4 linked regions of the Homo sapiens genome follow. The protein of the gene in region 4 interacts with the protein of the main gene of each other region in a pairwise test. Each region holds a gene or a part of one and is shown on either strand. Other genes may lie near its edges. The genes, in order: REEP6, PACSIN1, CCT8 and SNX12.

Region 1 (5,925 bases), on a different chromosome or scaffold from region 4:
TCCGGGAGGGAGGTGGGGGGGTCAGCCCCCCGCCCGGCCAGCCGCCCCGTCCGGGAGGTGAGGGGCGCCTCTGCCCGGCCGCCCCTACTGGGAAGTGAGGAGCCCCTCTGCCCAGCCACCACCCCGTCTGGGAGGTGTACCCAACAGCTCATTGAGAACGGGCCATGATGACAGTGGCGGTTTTGTGGAATAGAAAGGGGGGAAAGGCGCGGAAAGGATTGAGAAATCGGATGGTTGCCATGTCTGTGTAGAAAGAGGTAGACACGGGAGACTTTTCATTTTGTTCTGTACTAAGAAAAATTCTTCTGCCTTGTGATCCTGTTGATCAGTGACCCTACCCCCAACCCTGTGCTCTCTGAAACATGTGCTGTGTCCACTCAGGGTTAAATGGATTAAGGGTGGTGCAAGATGTGCTTTGTTAAACAGATGCTTGAAGGCAGCATGCTCGTTAAGAGTCATCACCACTCCCTAATCTCAAGTACCCAGGGACACAAACACTGCGGAAGGCCGCAGGGTCCTCTGCCTAGGAAAGCCAGAGACCTTTGTTCACTTGTTTATCTGCTGACCCTCCCTCCACTATTGTCCTATGACCCTGCCAAATCCCCCTCTGTGAGAAACACCCAAGAATGATCAATAAAAAAAAAAAAAAGTGTCTCCAGACAAGACCCAAAGGCCGGGGGACAAAACTGTTCTGGGTTGAGAATAACTGAGTTATGGCCCCTTGGGAAAATATATCAGGGTTTGTGGTTTATCCTACTCACTTTTTTTTTTTTTTTTTTTTTTGGAGATGGAGTTTCATTTGTTGCCCAGGCTGGAGTGCAGTGGCGCAATCTCAGCTGACTGCAACTTCTGCCTCCTGGGTTCAAGCAATTCTCATGCCTCATCCTCCCAGGTAGCTGGGATTACAGGCATGTACCACCATGCCTGGCTAATTTTTGTATTTTTAGTAGAGATGGGGCTTCACCATTTTGCCCAGGCTGGTTTTAAACCCCTGACCTCAGGTGATCCACCTGCCTCAGCCTCCCAAAGTGCTGGGATTACAGGTGTGAGCCACCGCACCCAAATGGGGGAGTTTTAAGAGAAGCAGGCTAATGCAAATAGGCCAGACAACTAGTTCGGGAGGGAGGAGAGAAAGCACTGTGATTAAGGACAAGCTTTTCCGGGGCTTGCACCCATCCTGGCCATGTGGGTGGACCTTGAGTGGGTGAATTAGCCTCTGGGCCTCAGTCTCCTCATCTATATTATGGGGCTGGTCGGCACAGCCGGGATTCATGCCTGATGAAATGGGACGGTGCCCTCGCAGCCCCTCCCCTGGGCCCCCCGCACACGTGGCACACAGGTCTGGTCCGGGTTAGCTTTATTGGAGCCTCCTAGCAGGCCAGGTGTTTCAGGCACCAGTAGTGCTGCAGGCACGGGGGCCTGTGGTGTGGCCAGCTGCAGGTGATCTCGGTGGTGGACTCCGAAGTGTACTCCAGAGAGGTCCCGGAATGGCAGGGGACCAGCTCGGGCACTGAGGCGCTGCTGGCAGGCTGTTTCGACGATTCCTTCTGGCGCTGTCCGCTGGTCTTGGGGGCTGCGTCCTCCGGCTTGCCAGAGGACTTGCTGGGGGGCTGCGTGGGGATGTTGCTGCTGCTGGGAGACTGGACCATGGGTGAGACCGGGCTGGAGGTGACGTTGGGTGGCTGCAGGGGCCCCGAGGACGGGAGGGCTGACTGGGAGGGGCTGGAGGAAGTACCAGGCGGCTGGGTGTGTTGCCGAGACCAGTGGGAGCTGCCCTGTGCCCGACGCTGGCCCTGGGCCCTGCCGGACAGGCGGGAGCCACAGCCAGAGCCAGAGGGCAGCTGGCCCTGGGATCCAGAGCTGGGGGTGGCCGAGGACTGGGACTGGGACTTGCCCGAGGTGGCATTTAAGGAGACCCCCAGGGCCTTGCCTGGACCCGAGGGACTGGCAGGGGCTGCTGTTGGGGGATGCGCTGAAGACTCTGTGGAGGCCTGGGAGCCTGGCGCGGCCCCCTCCTCACCAGCCAGGAGGTCCTTGTGAGGCTCAGGGGGCTGCTTCACTTGTCCTTCGGCTGCGGGGTCTGGCTTGGCTTGACTGCAGAGAGAGGGGCGGGTGGGGGAGGGCCGTGAGGCAGGCCTGGGCTCCCCGGAGCTGCTCGCAGGCGGGACTGAGGCTACTGGCTATGAGCATGACAAGTCGAGGGGCCGGGCAGCCACCCTCAGCAGAGATGGTGTCAACCACACAGAGGCTTTCATGGTCACCCATGCACAGATGGGTGCACACAGAGCACACGCATGTGCAGTCATGCACACGCACGCACTCACACGTGCACACATGGTCACACGCACACACATATACTCACATGCACACGTGGGCACACACACACATATGCACACGTGAGAAAACATGCTCACTCCCTTGCTCACTCACACACCAAACATACACTTGAGCCCATGCACACGCACCCTCTTGCACATGACAAAACATGCACACACAATAATACATGTGCACACAGCAAACATACGCTCAAACACACGCGCGCGCGCGCGCACACACACACACACACAGCTCCTATCTCCCCACAGCGGTTACGTACGGTCAGCTTCCAGGGGAGTGGAGGGCCCGGCCACAGCCACCGGGGTGATGCCTGCCCGGCTACGGGCCAGGACCTGCAAGACTGGTTCCCGGAAGCGTGAGAGAGAGAGGCGGACAGTGAGAGGGGGCGGCCAAAGTCAGAAAGGGAGGCAAGGTGGAGAGAGACAGGTCCAGACCCGGGAGATGGCCTGAGGCAGCCAGGCGCCTGCGAGCACCCACCGTTCCTGGTTATTCCGGCCGCCGCGTCCAGGGCTCGCCCGCTGAGGTCGTTCATGATTCTGTCTACGGCCCCGTGGTGCCTTAGGAACAGCGGACGCACGACGCGCTGATACAGCATGAGAGCCCCGTTCCAGGGCCTGGGAGCCATGCAGAACAACAGGAAGGCGCACTGCAGGGCGGGGCAGGAGTTACACGCGGGCCCACCCAGCTCTGTGCCCCTGGTGGGGAGAGGGGCTGCACCACTCCACCAGATGCCCATCCTGGACAGGCACTGGGTCTCCACCATCAGACACCCTTTAGGGTGGGCCCGCCACCATCAGACGTCCTATTGGGATGGGCCTGGGTTTTCGCCATCAGATACCCTCTAGAGTGAGCCCTCCACCATCAGACGTCCTACTGGGACAGGCCTGGGTCTCCACCGTCAGACACACTTTAGGGGTGGGCCCTGTGCCATCAGACATATTATTGGAATAAGCCTGGGTCTCCACCATCAGACACCCTTTAAGTGAGCCCTCCACCATCAGACATCCTATTTGAGCAGGCTTGGGTCTCCACCATCAGACACCCTTCAGGGTGGGCCCTCCACCATCAGACATCCTGTAGGGTGAGCCCTCCACCATCGGACATCCTATTGGAGCAGGCTTGGGTCTCCACCATCAGACACCCTTCAGGGTGGGCCCTCCACCATCAGCCCCCGGACAGGGCTCGTTTCCCCAGGGAAGGGACTGAGTCTTCCCCTCACATCCCCCATCTCCTGGTATCCTCCGGACTTTCTGGCCCCAGCGCCTCCCAGGAATCCCCAAGCCCCATGCGCTCCACGGCTGTGCCCGCCCTGGCAGGGCCCACCTTGCCCACGTAGTAGAAAGGGAACCAGGACAGGAGTAGATCGCTGAAGAACTCGGCCAGCCCAAACAGGGCGTACACCACCCAGTAGGTGAGCCACACAGTGTCGTCGTCCTTGCTTGGGCTCTCGATAGCTTTGATTCTGCAGGGAGGGTGCAGCAGGGTCAGGGGCTGCCAGGGAGCCCCCAGAACCCCCCGCGTGGGCAGCCAGCCGTGCACTCACGAGGCATATGCGGGGTACACAAATCCGATGAGATTGCACAGCAGAGACGCTCCGTAGCCGAACAGCAGATACAGGCTTAGCAGAGTGACGGCTCCTGCCGGAGAGAGGCGGTGGTGTGCCAGGGCTGGGGACCCGCTGAGCCCCCACGACGGTACCCAGGCCGCCTTTCAGTCGACGAAGACTGCAACCGTCACCTCCTCCCAGGAGCCGCCTCCAGGATATGTCCACTGCCCCTGATGTGCCTGTACATCCCCCATCGTGCCTCTAGGCCCTGAGCCTTGTGCCTGTAACTGGTCAACGTGTCCATGTCCCCCACCGGGGTTGAGAGCTCCCCAAGGGCAGGCAGGAGCTCGACGCTGGGCAGTGGGGGTGGGTGCGGAATAGCTGCCCAGTGAAGTGTTTGCAGCCGGGCGCGGTGGCTCACACCTGTAACCCCAGCACTTTGGGAGGCCGAGGCAGGTGGATCACGAGGTCAGGAGATGGAGACCATCCTGGCTAACACGGTGAAACCCCATCTCTACTAAAAATACAAAAGATTAGCCAGGCATGGCGGTGTGTGCCTGTAGTCCCAGCTGCTGGGGAGGCTGAGGCAGGAGAATGGCGTAAACCCAGGAGGCGGAGCTTGCAGTGAGCCAAGATCGCGCCGTTGCACTCCAGCCTGGGTGAGGCTCCGTCTCAAAAAAAAAAAAGTGTAATCTGCAACGATAGCCATCTCATTCCAGGCCCTTTGGGAGGCACTGGGAAAACAGGCCAGTGTTTCAATATAAGGGATGGCAGAAACCTGCAAGGGAGGCCAGGCTGTCATGAAGACTTGATTCTAGAGCTGAGAAAGGCAACTGTTTCATCTGTTATCTTAGCGCAGGGTTTCTCTGCCTTGGCACTGCTGATGTTCAGGGCCGGGTCATTCTTGGTTGTTTTCGGTGGAGAGGGGGAAGTGGCTGTCCTGGACACTGCAGGGTGCTGAGCAGTGTCCCTGGCCTCTGCCCACTCCATGCCATCAGCCCCCAAGTCATGACGACTACAGGTATCTCCAGACATCACCCAGTGTCCCCTGGGGCGGGGTGGGGGGCAGGGCTACCCCCTTTGAGAACCTCCTGTCTTGGAGGCAGCAAACCCCAGCATCTCGATCCCCTGGGTGGAGGAGAGCCCTTTGGTCGGGTGTGCACTCACCAGCCGGCACTGAGTGAGGCTGTGGCTGCATGGAGCCTCAGTTTCCCCCTTGGTAAGTGGGAGTAGTAATGGCCCCTGCCTCCTATGGTTACAAGTTAACAGAGAGAACGCCTTTCTGCACGTTTATTTCTATTTATTTTCGAGATGGAGTCTTGCTCTGTCACCCAGGCTGGAGTGCAGTGGCGCAATCTCAGGTCACTACAAGCTCGCCTCCCAGGCTCAAGTGATTCTCCTGCCTCAACCTCCTGAGTAGCTGAGCGTACCACCATGCCCAGCTGATTTTTGTATTTTTAGTAGAGACGGGGTTTCACCATGTTGGCCAGGCTGGTCTCAAACTCCTGACCTCAGGTGATCCGCCCGCCTTGGCCTCCCAAACTGCTGGGATTACAGGCGTGAGCCACCGCCATCAGCCTTTCTGCACATTTATTAAGTGCCTTCAGGCAACTATAACACAGTCCCAGCAAGGAGGGTGTTCAGAGAAAAACGTGTGTGTGTGTGTGTGTGTGTGTCCAGCTCAGCCCCAATCCTGAACCTGGCTCTGAAAAGAATGACTACGACAGCTGCATTTATTAAGCGCCTATTGTGTGCCAGGTTTTGTGCTTTTCCTGAATTATTCAACAGCCAAAACTGGGGGTGGGTGGGTGTTGCCCAAGGTCACACAGGGAACCTATGTGCTCCAGAGAGCTTGGACAGCCTTCTTCCTCCTCCCCTGGGGCTGCTATCTGCAGAGTGAGATAGAGGCCACTTCTGGACCAAAGGGCAGAGGCCCAAGTCCCCCCAGCCCCTCCCACCTGCTTTAGTCTTTATCCAAAAGCACCCAAGGTCAGGGGTAGGAGGAGTCCCCCAGCTGGTCCCAGGAGTGGCCTCCCAGTCAC
Region 2 (7,000 bases), on a different chromosome or scaffold from region 4:
ACCCAGGCCACGCCCCATTTAGTTCCCTGCAAATCCTCGCAACCCGTCTTCAGATCCTGCCTCTACCCCACCACACACCCAATGCAGGCCCAAGCCTCTCTTTCAGGCACCACCCCTGCCCCACCACACACCCAATCCAGACCCAAGCTTCTCTCTCAGGCACCGCCCCTGCACCACCACACACCCAATCCAGACCCAAGCTTCTCTCTCAGGCACCGCCCCTGCACCACCACACACCCAATCCAGGCCCAAGCCTCTCTCAGGCACTGCCCCGCCCAGCCGTCCTACCGGCCTTAAAGCTGAGCTCGTCCTGCTCCTGGCCGTCATAGTCGTAGAGTGCCCGCACGCGCACTCCCTTGGAGTCGTCCTCAAAGGGGTTGGCGCCCCCGTTGGTCTCACTGCCCCCAAAGGGGTTCCCACTCTCGTCGTCTGACCACTCGGTGGCGTAGGGCTGGCCTCTGTCGTAGCTGCTAACACTGAGACGCGGAGGAAGGAGCCAGCTTCAATGTCTCCCCGTACCGCATCCCGAGGGCTAACCGCTCCTCCTAATCAGAGCCCTGATCCCGAATTCTACCAAGGCTAGAGCAAGGATTGGCCACATAGGAGGGGTGACCCTCATGAGCTCTTTAAACCGATGTTTAAATGCAGGACCATTTGCGTTATTATTCAGCCCTCGAGGGAGAGGGCATTGAAGGGGACCCCAGGGCACATCTGAGCCTTCATCCGGGAGGAGGAGTACCACCTAATGTTTAAGAGCAAGGATCCTGGAGTCAGACCTCCTGGGCAACATATCTGGCTCTGAGGTTTACTAACTAGCAATGTGATCTTGGGCAAGTCACTTAACCTGTCTGGGTTTCAGTTTCTCCATCTGTAAAATGGTAATATTTACGCACTTGAGCATGAATGAGTTAACATATGGAAAGTGCATAGAACCGTGCCACACACAGTAGGTGCTCTAGAAGGATATGCTACCACTATCTTTTAGAGAGGAGGCTTGGTTCCTGTGATCTGGACCGGGGTCCCCAACCCTGGGGCTGCAGACAGTCCGTGGCCTGTTAGGAACCAGGCAGCACAGCAGGAGGTGAGTGACAGGCGAGGGAGCATTATCGCCTGAGCTGCACCTCCTGTTAGATCAGCCGCGGCGTTAGATTCTCATAGGAGCGCAACCCCCCTATTGTGAACTGCGCATGCGAGGGATCCAGGTTGCACGTTCCTTAGGAGAATCTAACGCCTGATGATCTGAGGTGGAACAGTTTCATCCGAAAACCACCCCGCTCCCATCCGTGGAAAAATTGTCTTCCACAAAACTGGTCCCTGGTCCCAAAAAGATTGGGGACGGCTGCTTTAGAGTGATGAACTACCACTATCTTTTAGAGAGGAGACATAGTTGCTATGATCTAGACCATTTCTTGTCTTCTGAAGCAAAACTCAGCTGCCCCAGAGTGTGGGTCCCTCTTGGCCCCAGGAAGCTCCACAGGAGGCACTCACCTGCCGCGGTCCCCAGCCTGGGATGTGGACTCTACCGCCCCAGTGGCATTGGTCAGCGCCACTCCCTCTGCCTTCTTAGGCTGTTTCTCCTTCTTGGTGGTGGTGTGAGGAAGGTCTGGGTTCCACTCCTGGTGGGGCCAGTGGAGCAGTCAGGCTGGGGGACTATGCCCTGAGGCACCTTTCAGCCTCTTCAGGCTCCCCTTCCCATCCCCACATATCCTCACCTCAAACTGGGGCCAGTTCATGGGCATGCCGGGGCCACTGGTGCTGCGGAACCATCTGAGGTCTTCCTGGGCATCAGCCCCCCGGATGGCCTGCTCCAGCTCACGGTACACATGGATGTAGCTGTGCTCAGGGAGATGGGGGAGGTGGAGGGCACAGATTCAACATGGCCCCTCCTCAACCTTGGTGAGAGGCCAGAGTCCACTCAGGGAAGCAGGGTGCTGGGCATGCTGCCCAGCCAGGAATCATGTGGGCTTTGCAAGAATAAGCTCCGGGCATGCTCGGTGGACTCCTTTTCCCTCCCACCTTAGCCATTCACCCATCATCCAGCATGTGTTTCTAGAGTACCCAGTGTGCGTCAGCTTGCACTCAACAGCCCCTGTGTTTGAAGCCTCATCCTTCTTGACCCCTGCAGCTCTGCCTCCCCTTCCCGTCACTGTGATGGAGGGCTGGGATGCCCTGCATGCCAGTCACACCATCTGCTGGCTGTGCCTGTGCCCTCGGTGCCTGCCATGCCCAGGTACCTGCTGTTCTCAGCCAGGTTGAGGTGCCGTTTGATGTCCAGCAGCACCTCCTTGAGGAAGACCAGCCGCTTTTCCTCAAATTGCTGGCATTGCTCAAACACCTGCTCCATGTTCTCCATGTACTGGGGTGTGGTCTTGCCCACATCTTCCAGCACTTTCTCATACTTCTCCTGTGTCTGTGGGCACCAGAGTGGAGAGAGGGTGACACCTAGCCAGGCCTGCAGCTCCCAGCCACCACCCTCTGCAAGGGGCCCCCAGACCCCCTACTGCCATCCCTGCCCGCCAGCACCTTCTGCACATCCTGCTTGCACTTGTCCACTTTGTCCTGCAGCTTCTTTTGCTGCTCAGGTGTGACCGATTGCTCCGTCTTGCTGTTCATCTCCCGTGTCATGGCCAGCTTTTCCTCTTTGCAAGCCAAATGGTAGGCCTTCTTGGCTGCCTCCAGCTGTGGGGAGGGGGGAATAGGGAGTAGGGTTTTCATTTGTGACCAGCAGCAAACATGGTCACCCATTAACTCCTCCCCTGCCCACTCCCTGGGACCTGTGAGCCCACACTCTTAAGAGCCAGAAGGGATGCAGGCCCTGGCTCCAGGTGTTCGGGAGCAGCGCTCCTCCATTTGTGGCTGCGTCTCTGCTTGGCACTGCCTGCTCCCCTGCAGATACCCTCCTGTCAGGCAGTGCAGTGCCCGCCCCATCTGGGGACCCAGGGGCCAATGTGCTCTTCTGCCCCTGCTGGTATCTTTCCTGGGGACAGTGCCCCTTTTTGCCCATGGGTCTCCTTACCCAATGGGCACTGCCTACCCATCTGTGAATATTTTTTCCTGGAAGGCAGTGCTGCTCCCCTGTGGGCACAATCCCAGAGGGCAGTGCCCAGCCCACCCATCCATAGATGCCCTCCCTGGGATCAGCACCCTCTGATCAGACGGGCCCACCCCACCCCGCCCGTGGCAGCACCCACTGAGCACCTCCTTCATCTTCTTGGCCCAAGGCTTCTGGGCCTTGCGGAAGCCATCTTCAGCCTCCTTCGTCTCCTTGAAGCCACCCATGATCTGCTTGTGATAGGCGTCCTTCTGCCAGTTCTTCACCTTCTCCAGGTCCTCATTCAGCAGATTGTTCTTCACCTCCTGGTGCAGCTCGCTCACCTTGTCTGCCTCTGTCATTATGGCACCCCAGGCCCGCTCCAGGCTGCCATACTGTGGGCCTGAGGGAATGGCAATAGGTCACAAGAACCTCATTGCCCCTGCCCAGAGGCCCCCCCTCACATCTCCCTTCTCTGAGGCTTTCCCTTTCCTCTCATAGCAACAGAAATGCCCTCCTCTGCTCTACGTGGCCCCATCCTCTAGGGCCCACATCAGCCACCACCTCCAGGAAGCCTTCCCTGACTGCTCTGCCCTCCTGCCATGGCCAGCAGCCCTCGCTGCATTCTTCTCACAGTATCTGCGGCCATACCTCCCTCCTCCTTATCTCTCTTGTCAGCATGTGAGCCCCATGGAATGGGGTCGGAGGGGGGCAGCCTGGACCCTGTGAGCTCTGACAAGCCCAGCACAGCGCCAAGCACACAGTAGGTGCTCCAGGAATGTTAGCTGAAGCTTGTGACAGATGCCAAGAGGCCACTGGGGACCAGTCATTCCACACTGACTTGTTGTTTGTGTACTGGCACCAGCTCTGTGCAGGGCACTGTGTTAGGTGGTGCAGGCCCAGCCCCTGCTCTCATGGGGTTTAGAGTATACTGCAAGAGAATAACATGAACAAGTATATGTAAACCGCAACTTCAAACTGTTCTAGATTAAAGGAACCTGAAGACACAATGCATAGAGGCAATGTGCGACTGCACTAGATCCTGGACTAGCAAGCGCAATTGCCATGGTAAATGTGCGTATGGGTCGTATTACATGTCCCAAATTTGATAGCTGAACTCTGGTTACTTAAGCAAATGCTCTTGTTCTTAGGAGATACATGAAGAATTTAGGGGTAAACAGGGATAATGGCTCCAGCTTACTCTCAAATGGTTCAGAAAATATGCATATCAATAAACAGTCAGTGAGAAAACGTGGGGCCAGTGAGCCTGGGGGAAGGGTATGTAGGAATTCTCTGTGCTACTGTTGCAACTTTCACAAAGTTTGAATTATTTCAAGATAAAAAGTGTTTTTTTTTTTTTAATTCAACCTAAAATTGTACAAAATAGAGATGAACAGGTAGGCCTGGTTTGATCTAGGAGGGAACAGCGCCTGAAAATGTCCTGTGTCTGGTAGATGGAGGGCATGGTGCATGCAAGTAGCCGGGGCTCCTAGGACCCAGACCTAGGGGGCTCGTGACGGCCTGGGGGCGCGCACGATGTGAGCCTGGGGGAGCACCTTTCTCGATGAGCTGGCGCCAACGCTTGGCCCAGTCGGTGAGCTGCTGCCCGTACGCCTTCTCGATCTTGGCGCGCTCCTGCACGCAGTTCATCAGGTCGTTGCATAGACGGTGGCCGTCATCGATGCGCTTCACGGTCCGCTTGTAGTTCCCCACCTGGCGGCCAAGCAGCGAGCACCACTCCCGCGGGTTCCCAGCGTCCCCAGCCCCGCCCGCCGCATCCAGCACGGCCACGCCCACTGTCTTCCGCCCCGCCTCCCCGCTTACGGCCTCGCCGTCCCCGCCCCCGCCCCCGCCCCCCGCCCCGCGGCGCAGCGGCAACACCCCAGGGAAACTAACTTTCGGAGGCTCCAGCACCCTGCCTCAGGCCCCGCCGTCTACACGCACCCTCACCCCAATTTAAACATGATTTCCTTGCTGCCACAAAATGCAGAAGGATTTTTAGAATTTGGACTTGGGCTGGAATGAATTATTCATTTTGTTTTTGCGAGTTAAATCTATTATATTTATATAGAGTCATATAAGCGTTGAGTTGAGCTGCAGCTTCTTGACATAATATTATGTTTTGTCGACATCTCATTAAACGCTTATTAATTTAGGTTTGGCAGTTTTCGTCTTGGGTTTCCGGAGCCAATAGCAATTTTTTTTCTCCAGGTCTCAAATATTTCCGAAGGTTCTGAAAATGCTGGCTTCTGGCTGTGCCTCCCGCTCTGCGGCCCCGTGGGGCTCTGGGAGCTCACTCCCTCTCTCTGTGTCCGGCGCTCCACCCCTGCCCACCTCAGGATGGGGGGCGAGCGAGGGAAATAGGAACAGCTGAGAAAGGCTGTGCTGTACCTGCCTGATGGAAGTGCCACAGAGTCACAAAGGGCCTGTTCCCACATTGTGAAATGCCACAGGCTCTCTCTGGGGGCAGCTGTGGGGAGAGAGGAGCTCCTGGCTCAGTGGGCAGTGCTCTTAGCCACTTCATGGCTACCGCTGCCTGTTGGACACCCAGGGCTTTGGAGGGGCCTGGGGGACTGCGGAGTGGGGCCTGAGGTCATGGGGTGAGTGATAAGGGAGCCTGGCCTCCAAACAGCCAGGCTGTCTGGTCCCCGAACCTGGGGATCATGAGAGCCTCACCTCCCAGAAGCTGTCGGTGGTCTCCTCTGGCGCCAGTGAGGCCTCATCGTAGGAGCTGGACATGGTGTAGCCGCAGGGGGATGGACAAGTGCGGAGCTGCGGTTAGCAGGCTCGGCTGCTCATGCACTGGGAGGGCAGGAGAGAGATCCCTGGAGATGAGGGAAGGGCCTTCCACCCTTTGCCCCATTCCAGGCCTGGGTCCCCAAACCGATGGGACCCAGGGAGGCTTGCATTAGGATGCCATCTTCCTGTCCAGAGACTAACTCACCAGACTTAGGTAACCCCAAGAGTCGCCCTGTAGCACCCTCATGCCCAACTCCCCATCCCTCCTCCTTCCCCCTCCCTGGAATCCATCCTCTATCCAGTATGAGCACCTCCGTTCAGAAGCCAGCCCCAGCCCCCAGAGCTGGCTCTCTCTCCTGGACTGTTGGAGCCCAGGCTCAGCGCCTCCTCAGTTATCTGAGCCCCGGGACCCTGTAAATGCCCTTCTGTCTGCCCTTGCTCCCAACCTCAGCAGCCCCCATTAGCTTCTTACAAGTCTCCTGAGAGTCCCAAATGTGTGGTGTCCTGGCCCACAGGTCACACCACCGAGATCTATGGGAGCGTCTGGGGTGGCTGTGTCTGCCCTGGATCTGTCGGCAGGCATCAGGGTTATCCAATCTAGGCCGTGCGCTGCCCCAGGGCCGAGGTGGGTACTCCCCTCCTCCCTTCCCCCAGCCAGGCCTCACTGTTACCCCAGGCAAGAATGGCTCAGTAGTCAGGAGCCAGGACTCAGAGGGCCAAGGGCCTGGTTTTCAAAGAGGCAGCAGAGTCCAGGCTGCGCCTGGCCCTGATACAAGCTGCCAGCCTCTAGCTGGATCCCGGCACCAGGGGACACCTCCCTGCTTCTGCACTGCAGTCCCAGGACTGTGAACCCTGACAGTGTGGATGCTCAGGGAAGGCTGGCCTCTGTAAGATTCAGCCCAACCTGGGGGTCCAGCAGTTGGCTCTCAGGCTCAGGGCAGGGGCAATAACACGTAAGAATGGTTGGTGGAGGATGTCCCTCCCCCTAGGGCTCCCCATCTGTCCAGGGCCTGGGGCTCTTTCCCAGTAATAACCCAGTATTGCCTCTTGCACCCCTCAGGCATCTAAACATATTTTGTTCCCTCCCTTTTAGAAGAACCACAGACAGACTTTCCCATAAACTCACGCACAGTGCGGGTGGGTGAGAGGGAGGACGGCTGGATTTCATCAAGGGACAAAGAAATGAGTCTGAATTTTTCTTTTCTTAACTTGGCACTTTTCACTTATAAA
Region 3 (8,678 bases), on a different chromosome or scaffold from region 4:
TCCAAGTTGTTGATAGTTTTAAAATTTTGTAGCATGAGGGGGGTCTGGTCATTTGGTCCATATTTTATTTTATTGTATTTTATTCTTTTTTTTTTTTTTTTTTTTTTTTTTTAGAGTCTTGCTTTGTCACCCAGGCTTGAGTCCAGTGGTACAATCTTGGCTCCCTGCAACCTCCGCCTCCTGGGTTCAAGTGATCTCTGGCTAATTTTTGTATTTTTAATAGAGACAAAGTTTCACCATGTTGGCCAGACTGGTCTCCAACTCCTGACTGCAAGTGATCCACCCGCCTTGGCCTCCCAGAGTGCTAGGATTACAGGCATGAGCCACCGCGCCCGGCCTAGTCCACATTTTAGAAAAAGTTTGAGAACCACAATGTTGTATTGGGAACACTAGTTAGCCTTTGTCAAAAGACAAACACCAGGACACCTACCTACCTGACATATTTAAAATAAAAGCACTTCTCGGCCGGGCACGGTATCTCACGCCTGTAATCCCAGCATAGGCCAAGGCAGGCAAATCACGAGGTCAGGAGTTCAAGACCAGCCTGGCCAACATGGTGAAACCCCGTCTCTACTAAAAATGCAAAAATTAGCTGGGCGTGGTGGCGCTTGCCTGTAATCCCAGCTACTTGGGAGGCTGAGGCAGGAGAATCGCTTGAACCAGGGAGTCAGAGGTTGCGGTGAGCCGAGATCCTGCCTGCACTCCAGCATGGTGACAGAGTGAGACTCTGTCTCAAAATAAATAAATAGATAAAAGTACTTTTCCACCTAAGTACTTATCAAAAGCAGATGCATCTGTTTTGACAGGGGGTTCTAGAAGCAAGCTGAGTTTCTATTTCACACATACAGTATTCTGCTGCTTCATAATATATGCACATATATCTTCATATTTTTTTGCCAAACCTTTATTTCTTCAGTCAACTATTATCTAATGACTTTGAACACCAACGTAGTGAAATGATTTTAAAGGGAATGTTTACTTGTTTTGCCAGGGAACAGTGTTGATAAAGACTGCTGAAGAATTGATGAATTTTAGTAAGGGAGAAGAAAACCTCATGGATGCACAAGTCAAAGCTATTGCTGATACTGGTGCAAATGTCGTAGTAACAGGTGGCAAAGTGGCAGACATGGCTCTTCATTATGCAAATAAATATAATATCATGTTAGTGAGGTAAGAAAAAGCCGATTTTTTTTTTTACCTATATCATAAATGGTTTTTTGGTGGTGAAAACACTAAACGAAATAGACCATGAAGACTGTTAATAAAGGGAAAGTAAAGGTACTAGGTCAAATAGCAGAAGGATTTAGTTTGGGGAGGGGTCAGGAAACACCTCTGAGAAAACATAAATTTAAGCTGAGAGCTTGAAGAACCAATTACCAGATAATTGAAGAGGGAAAAGCATTCCAGGCAAAAGGAACAACTTGTCCAAGAGACTAGACACAAGCTTGGTGCATTGCCTATCAGAGTATGGAGTCAGGAAGATCCCTTTTAATCCATGAACACATTTATGGTGCACACTAGACAACTTAACCCATTTCTACCTACCACCATCCCTAGTACCTAATAAAATGTGCAAAATAAATCACTCTTGTTCACAGAACATTGATTGCACAAAGTAAAGCAAAAATTTTCTATATGCTGTTGAGTTTTGTAAGGGTTTCTCTGGTGTTTTAGAACTATAAACCACTGACATCCTAAAGTGACTTCCATTCTCCCAATTCTAGAACAATGCCATACAACACAGGCTTAAGATGTGGTACTATTGGCCAGCTGGACTCACTCAGAGAGTCAGGAATCAGCTTCCTGGCCTTAGTGTTCATTGCAATCCAGACATGTTCTGAGTTAAAATCCATTGTCAAAGGAATGTGACATGGGGGCTGGTATACAGGTTCCTCTTTAATTTGAACTTTATATGCTATCTGAAATTGATTAAAACTTTTATTAAGGTCTTTGTGTTTTTTAAAGGCTAAACTCAAAATGGGATCTCCGAAGACTTTGTAAAACTGTTGGTGCTACAGCTCTTCCTAGATTGGTATGTATTTTGGAAAACACTAAAAGATAGTTGAACAAGATGGAATTTTTATTACAACAGTCACTTTCTTACAGACACCTCCTGTCCTTGAAGAAATGGGACACTGTGACAGTGTTTACCTCTCAGAAGTTGGAGATACTCAGGTGGTGGTTTTTAAGCATGGTATGTAGGAATGGTAAAACATGTTTAAGTGTAGGGCTTTAGCTTCTTGTATTTAATCACCAAATATATTTAATTTTTTGATAGAAAAGGAAGATGGCGCCATTTCTACCATAGTACTTCGAGGCTCTACAGACAATCTGATGGATGACATAGAAAGGGCAGTAGACGATGGTGTTAATACTTTCAAAGTTCTTACAAGGGTCAGTATCAGCAATATTCTTAGTAGTTTGTAAGGTCTGAGTAATTTGTATGGTCTTAAAAGTACAGTTTGCAGACTCTTGCACATCATGAGAACTTCAGAATGAGTGGTTTATATGAAATGAAGCACCTGTTTTTGTTTTTACCTAAGACTTAAGTGTCCATTGTTAGTGAATATGATAGTTTCCAAAAAAGATTGTACAGAGGAGTTAACAGCAAAACAGAGCTTTAAAAAAAATTGTTTATCGTTGTTTTCCATTGTAATGTACTGTTAGTTGCTAAAGCAGTTCTTAGTGCTATATCTGTGGATATGCAAAAATGATACGGTACTATTCCCATTCTTCACTTTGGTCCTTTTCATACACCAGACACTGTGCACTAAGAAAATTTGCCCCACCCACTCATTTTTACCAAATTTGTAATATGTATTTGAGTAACAATGACTGATAAAAACTCCTGTTTGGTGGGGTACTGGAATGTGAAAAGATTAGAAAACTGCAAACTGATTTTTAGTGAATTTGTTTTGTGTTCATTTTTTTTTTGGTGGGGGCGCTACATACAGGATAAACGTCTTGTACCCGGAGGTGGAGCAACAGAAATTGAATTAGCCAAACAGATCACATCATATGGAGAGGTACAGCTTTTTCTGTATAAATTGACTTTCTTTCCATTGCTTGAATAAAAGACAGTAATTAACGCATTTTTGTTTTAGACATGTCCTGGACTTGAACAGTATGCTATTAAGAAGTTTGCTGAGGCATTTGAAGCTATTCCCCGCGCACTGGCAGAAAACTCTGGAGTTAAGGCCAATGAAGTAATCTCTAAACTTTATGCAGTACATCAAGAAGGAAATAAAAACGTTGGATTAGATATTGAGGTATTTGAAAAAACACTGAACTTAAATTGCTTTATTTGGGGAATGCACAACCTAAAAATAGTATGAGTTTAAAAGAAATATCAATGAGAAACAGTGTTCTGATTTGGGAGCAGATTATTTTCTTAGTTTTTACATAGGTTGTCTGATGGAGGAACGTTTCATTTTCCTTCTGTTTTATTGATAGTCTTTTGTTCTGTAGTGTGTAGTCAGCCCAGTTCTGTATCCATTGATTCAACCAACCACAGATTGAAAATATTTGGAAAAACTAAAGACATTTAAAAATACACTATAACAACTATTTACACTATGTTATATAATTAATCTGGAGACGATTTAAAGTATATGAGAGGATGTGCATAGATTATATCCAAACACCATGCCATTTTATGTAAGGGATTTGAGCATCCACAGATTTTGGCATCCTTGGAGGTGCTAGAACCAATCCTCACATACTAAAGGATGACTCTATAAGGTAGGACTGTGCTTGGTTACTTTCCAGTACTATTTAAGGAGCTATGTGAGGCTTTTTGTGGGTGTAAACATTTTCACATAAAAGGATTTTAAATGAAAGGATGAAAATTGTGTTTGACAGGCTGAAGTCCCTGCTGTAAAGGACATGCTGGAAGCTGGTATTCTAGATACTTACCTGGGAAAATATTGGGCTATCAAACTCGCTACTAATGCTGCAGTCACTGTACTTAGAGTGGATCAGGTGAGCAAAGTGAAATTTTGATCTTTAAAAATACTCATTTGCATACTGTTTAATAGTATATTTTCCCAGAACTAGAACATAGCATAGTTCTAATTCAAAGGATTCTTAGTCCTCACCTATTAGAGATACTATGTGCCCCCCTCCAATTTTTTTCTTCTATTATAAATTGTATTGAATATATAACTTTCAAACCTTTTAGCCTTAGAACCCATTTGTACAAATAATTTAGAGAGTAAATTTAATATATAATACTAACATGGAATTTGGAAGGACCATAAAGCTCTCAAGCAGACATTGCAGACCACCAGCTTGAAGGAAAATGGAGTCTCTAGCTGTCTGCAGATAAGAGGACTGGGCATTGAAAATTTTTTCTGCTATGACAAATTACAGCTTGAGATACTAAAAGATGTTAAAGGTGTTTAAAATCATATTTCTACCCTTTTTTTTTTTTTTTTGAAGAATTGTGGTAGACTGTTCTATATATAGAAGTAAACCTGAAATCATAATTATTTTTCCAAAAGGTATTTTCTGGCAAACTTAATTAAATACATTTCCCCACAAAATTCTAGAAGTAATTAATAAGCAATGACTATTTATAAGTACTTAATAGAAAATTTTAATTTGCTAGAGGGACAGTATACATCCATTAGGTAAAAGTCATATGTCATATTAAAGGTGGAGTAAGTCCTAAGTAGAAATCAGTGGAAAGACATTTCAGCTTTTAAGTACAGTAAGGACCAGTTGGTGGTAATTATAACAAATTTATTGGAAGAACTATGATAGCAAGAGATGACCAAAAATGGAACTGGATATTTAGTTTCAAGTCATTGAAAATAAGCAGAAACTAGATGTTTATGTACCAGATTAACGGGTTTCTCTGTCAGCTTATTAGGTGATTTTCAATGGAAGAATATGTTTGAGTTCTTAAATAGAAACCTAAGAAAATACTTATTCTAGAAATTAGAATGTGGCTAAGAATAAAAGGGGAAACCAAAAATAGCAGGGACGGAAGAAGCTAAGTAGACTGCAGCATAAGGAACGCAGAAATTCCAACTGTGTTAGGAACTTTGAATGTCAATTATTCAAGCAAGACAATAACCACCACCCTTGGTCACAAAGGCAGTTTGAATTTTGGCTTTAAACTAGGAAGTCTGCTTTATCTTATGGTAGGGGAAGTTGTTGGTTGATCTGTTCCCCCAGTCTTTGCACTCTATGTGAAGTATGTATCTAAAGAACCCATCCAACTGTATTAACCAGTTTGTGTATATAGTGTATAGTATAATGAACCTAAATTTGTATAGTATATATTCTAGAAAAGGAATTGCACATCAAGCTTTAAGCATTGGATAGTGTAGTACGGACTGGATTAATCTTTGTTGGAATGTCTATTTCACTAGTTCTCAAAGTATGGTCCCAAAATAGTATCAACATCACCTGAGAACTTGTTAGAATGACAGTTCTCAGCCAGGTATGGTGGCTCACACCTGTAGTCCCAGCTACGCAGGAGGCTGAGGTGGGAGGATCACTTGAGCCCAGGAGTTGAAGGCTGCAGTGAGCTGTGATCACATCATGGCACTCCAGCCTGGTTGACAGAGTGACACTCCATCTTTTAAAAAACTAAAAATAAATAAGAAATACAGATTCTTGGAGGCCAGGCGCGGTGGCTCACGCCTGTAATCCCAGCACTTTGGGAGGCCAAGGCAGGAGGATCACGAGGTCAGGAGGTTGAGACCATCCTGGCTAACATGGTGAAATCCCGTCTCTACTAAAAAAAACAAAAAATTAGCTGGGCGTGGTGGCAGATGCCTGTAGTCCCAGCTACTCGGGAGGCTGAGGCAGGAGCATGGCATGAACCTGGGAGGTGGAGCCTGCAGTGAGTAGAGATGGCACCACTGTACTCCAGCCTGGGCGACAGAGCAAGACTCCATCTCAAAAAAAAAAAAAAAAGAAGAAATACAGATTCTCAGATGTCACTCCAGACCCACCAATATCAGAAATGCTGGAAGAGGCCTAGCAGTCTGTTTTAATGAGCACTTTTGATTATGGTGCCCACTAAAGTTTGGGAACTACTTGTTTTAGTGTTTGTTTCTTTTTTTTCTTTGAGATGGAGTCTTGCTCTGTCACCAGGCTGGAGTGCAGTGGTGTGATCTCAGCTTACTGCAACCGCCACCTCCCAGGTTCAAGCAATTCTGCTGCATCAGCCTCCCGAGTAGCTGGGACTACAGGCGCATGCCACCATGCCCACCTAATTTTTTTTTGTATTTTTAGTAGAGACGGGGTTTCACCATGTTGGCCAGGATGGTCTCGATCTCTTGACCTCGTGATCTGTCCGCCTTGGCCTCCCAAAGTGCTGGGATTACAGGCATGAGCCACCACACCCAGCTTTTAGTTACTTTTTAAAATCAATGTGCACTTAGGTTCTAAAATTATGCTTAATGCCTTTAATTCAGTCTGAAATTACTCTCAATTGGTAACATGTTATTCTGAGAATTTCAGGTTTAGGTATCTTTTTTGTTGTTGTTGTGATAAGGTCTTACTCTATCACCCAGGCTGGAGGACAGTGGCACAATCATAATCAGCTCACCACAGCCTCAAAATCCTGAGTTCCAGTGATTCTTCTGCCTTAACATCCCGAATAGCTGGGACTGTAGGCAGGTGCTGTCATGGTTGGCTGAGATATATATCATATATATCTGATATGTATATATCACACATATCATATGTATATATCATACATATGTATATATCATACATATCTCATATATATCATATATATCTCATATCATACATATACATGATATATATATCATACATATATGTATGATATATATTATATATGATATATGTATGATATATGTATCGTATATATGATACATATATCATATATATATTATCAAATGTTATATATATATTTTATATATATATATATTTTTAGTTTTTGTAGACTAGGTCTCACTTTGTTGCCCAGGCTGGTCTCAAACTCCTGGCCTCAAACCTTGGCCTCCCAAAGTGCTAGGATTACAGGCATGAGCCACTGCCCAGTTCAGGTTTGCAGATGGTAATTAAGATGTTTTCCAGCCGAGCGCAGTGGCTCACACCTATAATCCCAACACTTTGGGAGGCTGAGGCGGGTGGATCATGCAGGAGTTTGAGACCAGCCTGGCCAACGTGGTGAAACCCCGTCTCTACTAAAAGTAAAAACTTAGCCGGGCATGGTGATGGGCACCTGTAATCCCAGTTACTCAGGAGGCTGAGGCAGGAGAATTGCTTGAACCCAGGAGGCAGAGGTTGCATTGAGCCAAGATCGCGCCACTGCACTCTCTAGCCTGGGCAACAGAGCAAGACTCCGTCTCAAAAAGAAAAAAAAAAAAAAAGCTAAAACCTATTTATTTTAGATAAAGTAAGGTGAGGTTTGTGGCGCTTTTTTTTTTAAGTTGGGAACTTAGATTTTTGTTTATGAAAATTCCTGGCTGCTTGAATGATTCTCATTTACAGGTTTTAGAAAATTTCAGTGTTAAACTTTGTATATACTTATGTATCAACTACTTTAGATTATAATGGCAAAGCTGGCAGGTGGGCCTAAAGCTCCTAAACCACAAGGAAATTGGGACAGAGATGGTTGGCAAGACACATCTCATATATAAATAGCAAATCAGGTGCCAAACTGACCGACTTACACCAGTGATGCATGCACATATTTTCACTTTCAGCTTTTTGAGTTATTGAAGTGCATGTCTTGGAATGTTCACTAATCTCTGTGGATTTTATTGCGGTTATCCATAAAAGCAGTAAACTTTCTCATGCGCTGAAAGTTTACAATTGAATTTCTAACAAGGGAGCTAGCAAACTCTGTGCTGTAGTGTTTTATATGCAGTACATAATTATACCAAGAAGACTGCTTAATCTTAAATCATGCTAATAGAAGCATTCTTTTCATTCTAAAGGTTAAGTTGATAAGCATACTCTTGTGTGATTCTTTTTTATGCAGATCATCATGGCAAAACCAGCTGGTGGGCCCAAGCCTCCAAGTGGGAAGAAAGACTGGGATGATGACCAAAATGATTGAAATTGGCTTAATTTTTACTGTAGGTGAAGGCTGTATTTGTAGTAGTACTCAAGAATCACCTGATGTTTTCTTATTCTCCTTAAATTAAGAGTTATTTTGTGTTTGTATTCTTGGCTGGATGTTATAATAAACATATTGTTACTGTCAAAGCCTTATTGTCTAATGACCACGGTTATTGGCTCTAAATGACTTGTGTTCCTCTCAACCTTGTTAATCACATTAGCTGTGGGACTTAAGGCAAGTCACTTATGTAAGTAGAGGCCTATTACCCATGTATATCTGGCCTACTGCCTGTTTGTGTAAATAAGTTATTGGAACACAGCCATGCTCATACCATTACATATTGTCTGCAGTTGCTTTCTAACAAGGGAGTGGCAGAGTTAAGTATCTTTATTTTTGACAGAGACCAAATGGGCCTACAAAGCCTAAAATATTTACTATCTGGCCCTCTACAGGAAAGTGCTGCCAACACCTGGACTAGATTTCCAGTGTTTTTGTCACAGCTCTGGAATTCCTGACTCAAGGTGACTTGTTTCAATAGCAATTAATAATTTGTTGAAGACACTCGACTTAGCAAAGTACAAAAAAAATGCTTAGAAAATAGATAAACTGACATACAAAATTAAGTCAG
Region 4 (8,266 bases):
TCTGCCTGTGTCAAATTTATTTGGGAAAAAAAACAGTGTCAGTTGAGATAAAAAGCCTATAGAAGAAATGTTTGTTGGTGTTGTGTGGGTGTGTCAGAGGATGAACACATGCATGTGTGTTTATGTACATGTATTACATATGCAGACACACACATACACACATACACACACACATATATAATAAATATATTCTGCCCAAATTAGCACAAACCCACAAGCTTAAAAACCAAATCTGCTAAATCTGACTCAAACAACAGGTACTGAGCCTACAGCTACTTCCTGCAAGCAGATGCATTACCTCTGTGACAAAGTCAGTTGTGAGTTGCAAAAAGGATAGGTAAATATCATTAAGATAAGTTAAGATTCTGCTTTCTAAAAAAATTTAAATGCAAAACATTACCTCAGGACACTGGCCACACTGTATGATTTCTGCATAATACCCAGCATATCCTAGACACTAAAGAATACTAAATTTACAACTTAAGCAGGAAAACAGAGGCTTGCTTCACAGTGGTTTAATATGAACAGAGTTGAATATGACATTGTCTGACAGAAGAATGAACAGTTTGCTGAATAAAAGCCCCGAGTCAGGATATATATACACAGCAGAAATGGGGCCTCAGACTCTCAGCACTTGTGCACAATGAAAGAGGAAATCGTTTTTAAAAAATGTCTATAACAGAGGATACAAATCAAAAAGGCAGCAACAACAACATTGGCGAGGTGGGAAAGGGAGCAGAGCCTCTCATTAGGGGCTGCTTAGCCCCTGGCGCAGGCTCAGCAGCTGGAGAGCTGTCTCAGGGAACTTCAACATTTAGATGGGTTCCAAATCCTATGTCAAAATACAATCCTAATCTCTCTGATCAGGGTCAGTCAGAATCAGCAATCCTTTTCCACAGTGCCCTGCATAGAAAACTCCAATCTTTCCATGATAGGGAGTCTAAGCAAAGAGCCCCCACCTCTCACCTGGCACCAAAGTTAACTTACTCTCACCCCACCACTTGGGACAGACGTTGGGCCCCAGCAAACAAACCACCCCCTCCAAGACAGAAACCAGGATAGTTGCCAGCCTCAAGAAGCTGCTTCAAATGTTAAGATTTAGGAAATCCATACCAAGCTGCTATCCATAGTTCAACTTCTGGGGAAAATGCTGGAGTTGCATGAGAAACAAGTGCAGGCAGTTCAATAACCCTGTGACCACGCTGGGGAGGGCAGCAAAAACTCTTGCCCCTGAGCCCCATTCAACAACTCAAAGTGCTTAGGAGAAGTCAGAGACTGTGTGGTTGGTTTGTGTGCTTCTGCCCTGTGGCAGCACTAAATGGGATGGGGGAAAGGAGAATGGAAGGAAGACAGTGTTGATGCCCTTCCCTACCGCGGGTAAGAGCCTAGAAGATAATCCACTCCCACCCTTCAGGGAGTTACCTGGCAGTGGTGAGTTGCCCCCACCCCTCAAGCCACCAAACCTGCAAAGCTAACCCATAAAGTAGCAAGGGCTTAGGGAGGGAGAACTGCTGGCCCATACTGACTCACCAGCTGATGAGCAAAAATAGGCAGCTAGAGTGGGAGCCACAAAGGGAGAGGGGCTAGGCAATAGGAGCTCCCCTACTGCCCTATGGCTTTCTTCTGACTCTGAAGCAGCCATAATGATGGGCCCAGAAAACCCACACACCCTGCTCCATACAACAGACTGCTTGGACTCTAGGAGGATTACTGCCATGGAAAGCAACAAGGGAGAGAGAAAGCAACAAAAGAAACTGTTAAGAAAACTGGGAGCAGGCCTGAAGAAAACAAGGAAAGCTTCTGAGTCTCTACCACCTTTCCAAAAAGGAAAAAATACATGCAGTTAGGAAAGGCAGGGTTTTTCCCTGCTCAGTGTTCTTGGTTAAACCTAAGAGTAAGAAAAATCCCCTGAACTTGCAGCATCAGTATGTATCCAAGTGCCTCACCAGCACAAGCGCCCCCCTCCCCCCAGGTTAGCCTTCTGGCATGGGTAAATGCCCAAGAAATTGCCTTCCAGTCTAATCCCCCCACCCACCCACCCCAACCCCAAGCAAAGGGCATCTGCCTGTGGGTTCCCACCTCTCCTCAGAGAAGAGGATCCTAGCAGAGTGCCCACATGGTGTAGTCAGGTACCAGGGAGCACAATGCCAGACAGTCTATCAGGCCAGGAGATGGGCAGCCAACTTCAGATCAAAGACAGAGAGAGGCTTAGTGTAAAAACCAATGTCATTTCAGCAGGAAAGTAGAGGGCAGGTGGTGAGAGGGGCTCCTACTGGCGCACCTTCCCCGGGACGTAGTTCCTGTCAATTGCCTCCTCTTGCAGGAACATGTGTAGGCAGCGTTCATTCTGAGCCAGTGGGTGCCCAGCAATTCTATAAAGAAACCAGGATGGTTATCAGTAGTATTCAGAATCAGAGAGAATTAGCAGAGGGATGGGGATGTGGACAGGGGAAGAAGGGCAAGGTCAGCCCTGAGGTTCAAGCCAGTAGAGGACAGCAGTAGGGTACCACCTCAACCCTAATATTGTAAAGGGGACGGGGGATAGAGGGGCAAGACAGGGAAATCCCTAGATATAACCAACATGCAGTGCTTTCTCAGGCCCTGACACACAGGATCAGAATCCTACTCAAAGGAATGGAGTTTTACTGTCCAGTCAGCCCACCACACAATTGGCACCACATCATGGTACCCATTATAAAAGGTGAGCTGGGTGCGGTGGCTCACGCCTGTAATCCCAACACTTTGGGAGGCCAAGGCAGGTGGATCACTTAAGGTCAGGAGTTCGAGACCAGTCTGGCCAACATGGTGAAACCCCATCGCTACTAAAAACATGAAAATTAGCTGGGCATGGTGGCCGGCGCCTGTAATCCCTGTTACTCAGGAGGCTGAGGCAGGAGAATCACTTGAACCCAGGAGACGGAGGTTGCAGTGAGCCGAGATCACACCATTGCACTCCAGCCTAGGTGACAGAGTGAGACTCTGTCTCAAATAAATAAATAAGTAAATAAAAATAAAATAAAAGGTGAGGTAAACAAAACATATAGAAAGACTACGATGGCAAAAGTAGCAAGTGGAGCCCCCAGGAACTTGGCTTACTTGTTAATAAACTGCTCGAGGCCCTGCCTCCTTTCTTCGATGAAAGACTCCTCAAAGATCCCTTCATCTCCTCGGAAAGGGAGCTGCCGCTTCAAGGCTTTCCCAGGCAGTGGTGGTACTACAATCTGCAGGCACACACAAAATTCCAGCCACATGGGAGAGAGACAGAGTGGGAATGAGATGGTAAAGCACCGTGTACCTCATTTCTTATTAGGCATAGGGTCCATCCTGTCCCACAGCCAGCAACTTGCAAGAACTAAGACCATAAGAACAGTCAGGATGGCTCAGGTCAAAAATTAATCCGTTTCTGTGGGAAGACAGGTTTACCACCTCAAAAGAAGGAAATAAACTCCAAATAATCCTCACTTTCCTTAACAAGCCACTACCATTCAAGAATTTAGCTAGGATTTTCCTGACACTAGACTTTCCATTTTTAGCACCTACAGGAATTAAGTTGTACAACTTTACTAGCGACTAAGTGAAGTAATACTTTAAAAAAAAAACTTGTCCTGAACTTACCACTTTCTTTTTTTTTTTTTTTTTTTTTTGAGACAGAGTCTTGCTCTGTCATCCAGGCTGGAGTGCAGTGGCACGATCTCAGCTAACTGCAACCTCTGCCTCCCAGGTTCAAGCAATTCCCATGCCTCAGCCTCCCAAGTAGCTGGGATTACAGGCATCCACCACCACACCTGGCTGATTCTTGTATTTTTAGTACAGGCGGGGTTTCACCATGTTGGCCAGGCTGGTCTTGAACTCCTGACATCAGGTGATCCGCCCGCCTCAGCCTCCCAAAGTGCTGGGATTACAGGCGTGAGCCACTGTGCCCAGCCAGAACTTACCACTTTCAAGTTTCAAAAGGTATCCCCCCGATCTAAAATACTGAGATTTGATGGATAAGAATGTGTTCACCCTCTTCATTCCCTTCAAGACTTTATAGACTGTGGTTGTATGCCCACTCAGCCTATGCAGAGCTCCTCCTCCAAAGATGCCACACAGAGAACAAAGCCATACCTTGCTATCTCTCTCCAGCTCATTTTTCAGCCACTCAAAGTCACTGTAGCGCCGCCGTACGCAGGACTCCTTTAGCTTGAAGATAGGTAGGTTTGTCTACATGGAAGGAAAAATTAAAGAAGAAAGATGGTAATGTTCAGCCTGTGGTAGCCACCTGTCTGAGTAACTTGGACAGGTCCCAATGAAGAAATAGCTCCTATGGATCATGCTCCTATAACCCCTTCAAATCACCACCAGGTAAAAACCAACCCTTACCACATCCAACCTTATCATAGCTGATGATCAGAAGTCCCTTGCTGCTTTGAATTTATCCTACAAGTAGACTTGCAGTAGTATGTAAATATGTACATATAAGAGTTTTCACCAGGCTTGGTGGCTCACGCCTGTAATCCCAGCACTTTTGGAGGCCAAGGCAGGCAGATCACTTGAGGTCAAGAGTTCAAGACCAGCCTGGCCAACATGGTGAAACCCTGTCTCTACTAAAAATACAAAAATTAGCCAGGTGTGGCGGCACACACTTGTAATCTCAGCAACTTGTGAGGCTGAGGCAAAAGGATCACTTGAATCCAGGAGGCGGAGGTTGCAGTGAGCCAAGATCACACCACTGCACTCCATCCTGAGAGACAGAGTGAGATTCTGTCTCAAAAAAAAAAAAAAGAGTTTCACTGCATTTTATTATTTATAATAATAATAAATGTCTATGAATAGACAATAGGTTACAATGAATTATGGTATACCTGTATAGTAGAATATTAAATAACTATGAAAAGAATGTGAAAGCCAGGTGCAGTGGCTCACACCTATAATCCCAGCACTTTGGGATGCCGAGGCAAGGGATCACCTGAGCCCAGGAGTTTGAGAGCAGCCTGGGCAACCATAGCAAGATTCCATCTCTACAAAAAGTAAAAAAGCCAGGTGTAGTGGCAGTGCTCGCTTGTGGTCCCAGCTACTCAGGAGGATCACCTGAGCCCAGGAGGTCAAGGCTATGGTGAACTGTGATTATGCTACTGTAATCTGGCACAGAGACTCTGTCTCTCGAAATAAAAATGAAAGATCTCTATGTGCCAGTATGGAAAGATATTAAGTAGTAAAATCAAGGTATAGAACAGTATATATATATAGCTTGCCTCTATTTGTGTTTTAAAAAGGGATGTATATGTATATATTTATACTGATTAATAAAGTATTTATGAAAATATACTGGTAATGGTGATTGACTTTCGAGAGTAAGAGAAGACAACTGGAATGGGTGGAATAGTCACATTTTTCATTGTACAATTTGAATTTATCATGTGTACATATTACATTTTCCTTTAAAAAGTGAATTTAAATTCCCTGTAAAGAGATAAACACATCCAAGGTATGCCTACCTCTGCTCTTCCTGTCCAAATCCTCTCCATTCTACCAGTGCTCACTCAACTCTCACTTCAAACAAAAAAATTTTCTGACAACAACAACTGGATTTATTGGTTTTCCTCCTCTCTGAACTCTTCTGACAGTTATACTTTAGCATTGCCTGATACACTATTGTTTTATGCATCATGTTTGCCTTGTCTAACTAACTAATCTCATTAAGATCAGAAACTATGACTACTTCTGCATCTTCTAAAATGCAGAATATGCAAGTTACTCAATAAATGCTCAATTGATTAATAGAGACTCTATGTGTCTGTTTATCCTCTCCTCATCTAGAAAATGCATAAGAAATCACCATTACAAAAGTTGGCTTACCATAGCTTGCTCCCTGATATAAATCAGCTCATTCCCACATTTTAAACACTGAGAAGATTCCCAAGGCTCTAGTGGCAACACGAATCCCCTGACAGAAAACCCTGATCTTCACTCCTGTCTACAAGTTCTAAATAGAAATGGCCAACCACATGTATTAATACTGACCATATTTACTGCCAGTCAATTCAGGTGAGAGGATGAATAAAATAAACTAGTTATCTCCTTTCTCCACAACTGCCTCTTGGCAGGAAAAGAGCAACTCGAAACTCCATTAGAGCTTCACACAGAACCCACTACATCATGCTTTGTACTCCTTGACACTGGAAATTGTCTTTTCAGGATCCAGTTCTCAAATAGGCCATCAAAAGCCAAATAACTGGCCAATTGTACATTAAACTCCATCCAGGATCGTCAAGGTCCAAGGAATGTCAATAGGTTGAAATGGAGTGAGATTCATATAAAGTAAGATTACTAAACCATTATTTATTTAAAAGAATAAATAAGGGCTGGATGCGGTGGCTCACGCCTGTAATCCCAGCACTTTGGGAGGCGAGGCAGGCAGATCACTTGAGGTCAGGAGTTCGAGACCAGCCTGGCCAACATGGTGAAACCCTGTCTCTACTAAAAACACAAAAATTAGCCAGGTGCTTGTAATCCCAACTACTCAGGAAGGTGAGGCAGGAGAATCGCTTGAACCCAGGAGGCGGAGGCTGCAGTGAGCCGAGATCATGCCACTGCCCTCCAGCCTGGGTGACAGAGCAAGACTTTGTCTCAAAAAAAAAAAAAAAAAAAGAATAAACAAGGCCAGGCGTGGTGGCTCACACCTGTAATCCCAGCACTTTGGGAGACTGAGGTGGATGGATCACTTGAGGTCAGGAGTTCGAGACCAGCCTGGCCAACATGGCGAAACCCCATCTCTACTAAAAATACAAAAATTAGGCCGGGCATGGTGGCTAACACCTATAATCCCAGCACTTTGGGAGGCCGAGGCAAGCGGATCACTTGAGGTCAGGAGTTCGAGACCAGCCTGGCCAACATGGCGAAACCTGTCTCTACTAAAAATACAAAAATTAGCCAGGCGTGGTGGTACATGCCTGTAATCCCAGCTACTTGGGAGGCTGAGGCAGAAGAATCACTTGAACCCGGGAGGCAGAGGTTGCAGTGAGCCGAGATCATGCCACTGCACTCCAGCCTGGGCTACAAGAGCAAAACTCTATCTCAAAAAAAAAAAAAAAAATTAGCCAGGTGTGGTGGCACCATGCCTTATGCCTGTAGTCCCAGCTACTCCAGAGGCTGAGGCAGGAGAATCGCCTGAACCTGGGAGGCATAGGTTGCAGTGAGCTGAGATCATGCCACTGCACTCCAGCCTGGGTGACAGAGCGAGACTCTGTCTCGAAAAAAAAAAAAATTGTGGAAGGGACCGATTAAAAGTTTAGTGAGTAGAAAAATTTTGCATGCTAAAGTTTTGCTACTAAGTGTTGTCAAGGAGACAGAAGTGTAGCAGAAAGAATATGGAGTCAGACATATTTGTGTTCAAATTCCAGCCCTGTCAGTTATAGTTACGTGTACTTGGGCAAGTTACTTAAACTGCATTCCTCCTCAGTTTCCCATGTGTAAAACGAAGTTCTGTAAGGATTAACACAAATTAAAACCTAGTTCAGTGCCTGGTACACAGTAGGCACTAGATGAACAGTCCCTGTTGCTATTAGAATACCTGGAGTAGGGCCAGGCGTGGTGGCTCACGCCTCTAATCCCAGCCCTTTGGGAGGCCGAGGCAGGAGGATCACTTGCGGTCAGCAGTTCAAGACCAGCCTGGCCAACATGGCGAAACCCCGTCTCTATTAAAAATACAAAAATTAGCCAGGCATGGTGGCATGTGCCTGTAATCCCAGCTACTCGGGAGGATGAGGCAGGAGAATTGCTTGAACCCAGGAGGCGGAGGTTGCAGCGAGCCGAGATTGCACCATTGCACGGCAGCCTGGGCAATAGAACGAGACTCCATCTCTTAAAAAAAAAAAAAAAAAAAAAAGAATACCCTGAGTAAAGAGCGATTTCATTCAGAATCCCTAAGACTCTTGGGTAATGCATTGAATGTCTCCAAAACCCCACAGCAGACAGCCCTTATGCTGTACTAGTCATGCCCAAGCTCCCTCAGGTAACTAAGTTCTCCAGCACTGACAATTTCCTGCTTTTATCATATTCTGAAGGACCTAAATTCCATTCTCCCCCAAAGACATGATTTCACATAGTTCTTATATAGACAAGTGTTTCTCATGTTTTGCTATTCACTTTTCTTTCTTCAGTTTGGACTTTGCCAAACTTGGAATCTGGAAATCATAATTTCTCAATAAGATTTCAAAGCCCAAGTAGGAGACCACAATTTCTCATTCAATTCACTCCTTCAACAATGAAAGCACATACACTCTTT

The links.
Region 1: the proteins of SNX12 (region 4) and REEP6 interact in binary tests that used the Homo sapiens proteins (3 or more experiments, as listed by UniProt).
Region 2: the proteins of SNX12 (region 4) and PACSIN1 interact in binary tests that used the Homo sapiens proteins (3 or more experiments, as listed by UniProt).
Region 3: the proteins of SNX12 (region 4) and CCT8 interact in binary tests that used the Homo sapiens proteins (3 or more experiments, as listed by UniProt).

Annotation. Positions count from the first base shown.
Region 1 is NC_000019.10:1,493,343-1,499,267, reverse strand, and holds the end of REEP6 (receptor expression-enhancing protein 6), read right to left. Parts: intron 3,975-5,925; coding exon 3,881-3,974; intron 3,800-3,880; coding exon 3,661-3,799; intron 2,984-3,660; coding exon 2,815-2,983; intron 2,678-2,814; coding exon of another isoform or gene 2,597-2,677; intron 2,095-2,596; coding exon 2,057-2,094; 3' UTR 1,341-2,056; downstream 1-1,340. UniProt on the Homo sapiens protein: Required for correct function and survival of retinal photoreceptors. Required for retinal development.
Region 2 is NC_000006.12:34,525,076-34,532,075, reverse strand, and holds part of PACSIN1 (protein kinase C and casein kinase substrate in neurons protein 1), read right to left. Parts: intron 5,834-7,000; 5' UTR 5,771-5,833; coding exon 5,708-5,770; intron 4,745-5,707; coding exon 4,588-4,744; intron 3,435-4,587; coding exon 3,199-3,434; intron 2,680-3,198; coding exon 2,524-2,679; intron 2,411-2,523; coding exon 2,235-2,410; intron 1,834-2,234; coding exon 1,713-1,833; intron 1,617-1,712; coding exon 1,489-1,616; intron 477-1,488; coding exon 289-476; intron 1-288. UniProt on the Homo sapiens protein: Plays a role in the reorganization of the microtubule cytoskeleton via its interaction with MAPT; this decreases microtubule stability and inhibits MAPT-induced microtubule polymerization.
Region 3 is NC_000021.9:29,055,844-29,064,521, reverse strand, and holds the end of CCT8 (T-complex protein 1 subunit theta), read left to right. Parts: intron 1-991; coding exon 992-1,170; intron 1,171-1,965; coding exon 1,966-2,032; intron 2,033-2,106; coding exon 2,107-2,194; intron 2,195-2,278; coding exon 2,279-2,394; intron 2,395-2,954; coding exon 2,955-3,026; intron 3,027-3,104; coding exon 3,105-3,269; intron 3,270-3,861; coding exon 3,862-3,981; intron 3,982-7,969; coding exon 7,970-8,047; 3' UTR 8,048-8,196; downstream 8,197-8,678. UniProt on the Homo sapiens protein: Component of the chaperonin-containing T-complex (TRiC), a molecular chaperone complex that assists the folding of actin, tubulin and other proteins upon ATP hydrolysis.
Region 4 is NC_000023.11:71,058,747-71,067,012, forward strand, and holds the end of SNX12 (sorting nexin-12), read right to left. Parts: exon of another isoform or gene 8,260-8,266; intron 5,966-8,259; exon of another isoform or gene 5,842-5,965; coding exon of another isoform or gene 5,839-5,841; intron 4,204-5,838; coding exon 4,108-4,203; intron 3,222-4,107; coding exon 3,097-3,221; intron 2,373-3,096; coding exon 2,270-2,372; 3' UTR 501-2,269; downstream 1-500. UniProt on the Homo sapiens protein: May be involved in several stages of intracellular trafficking.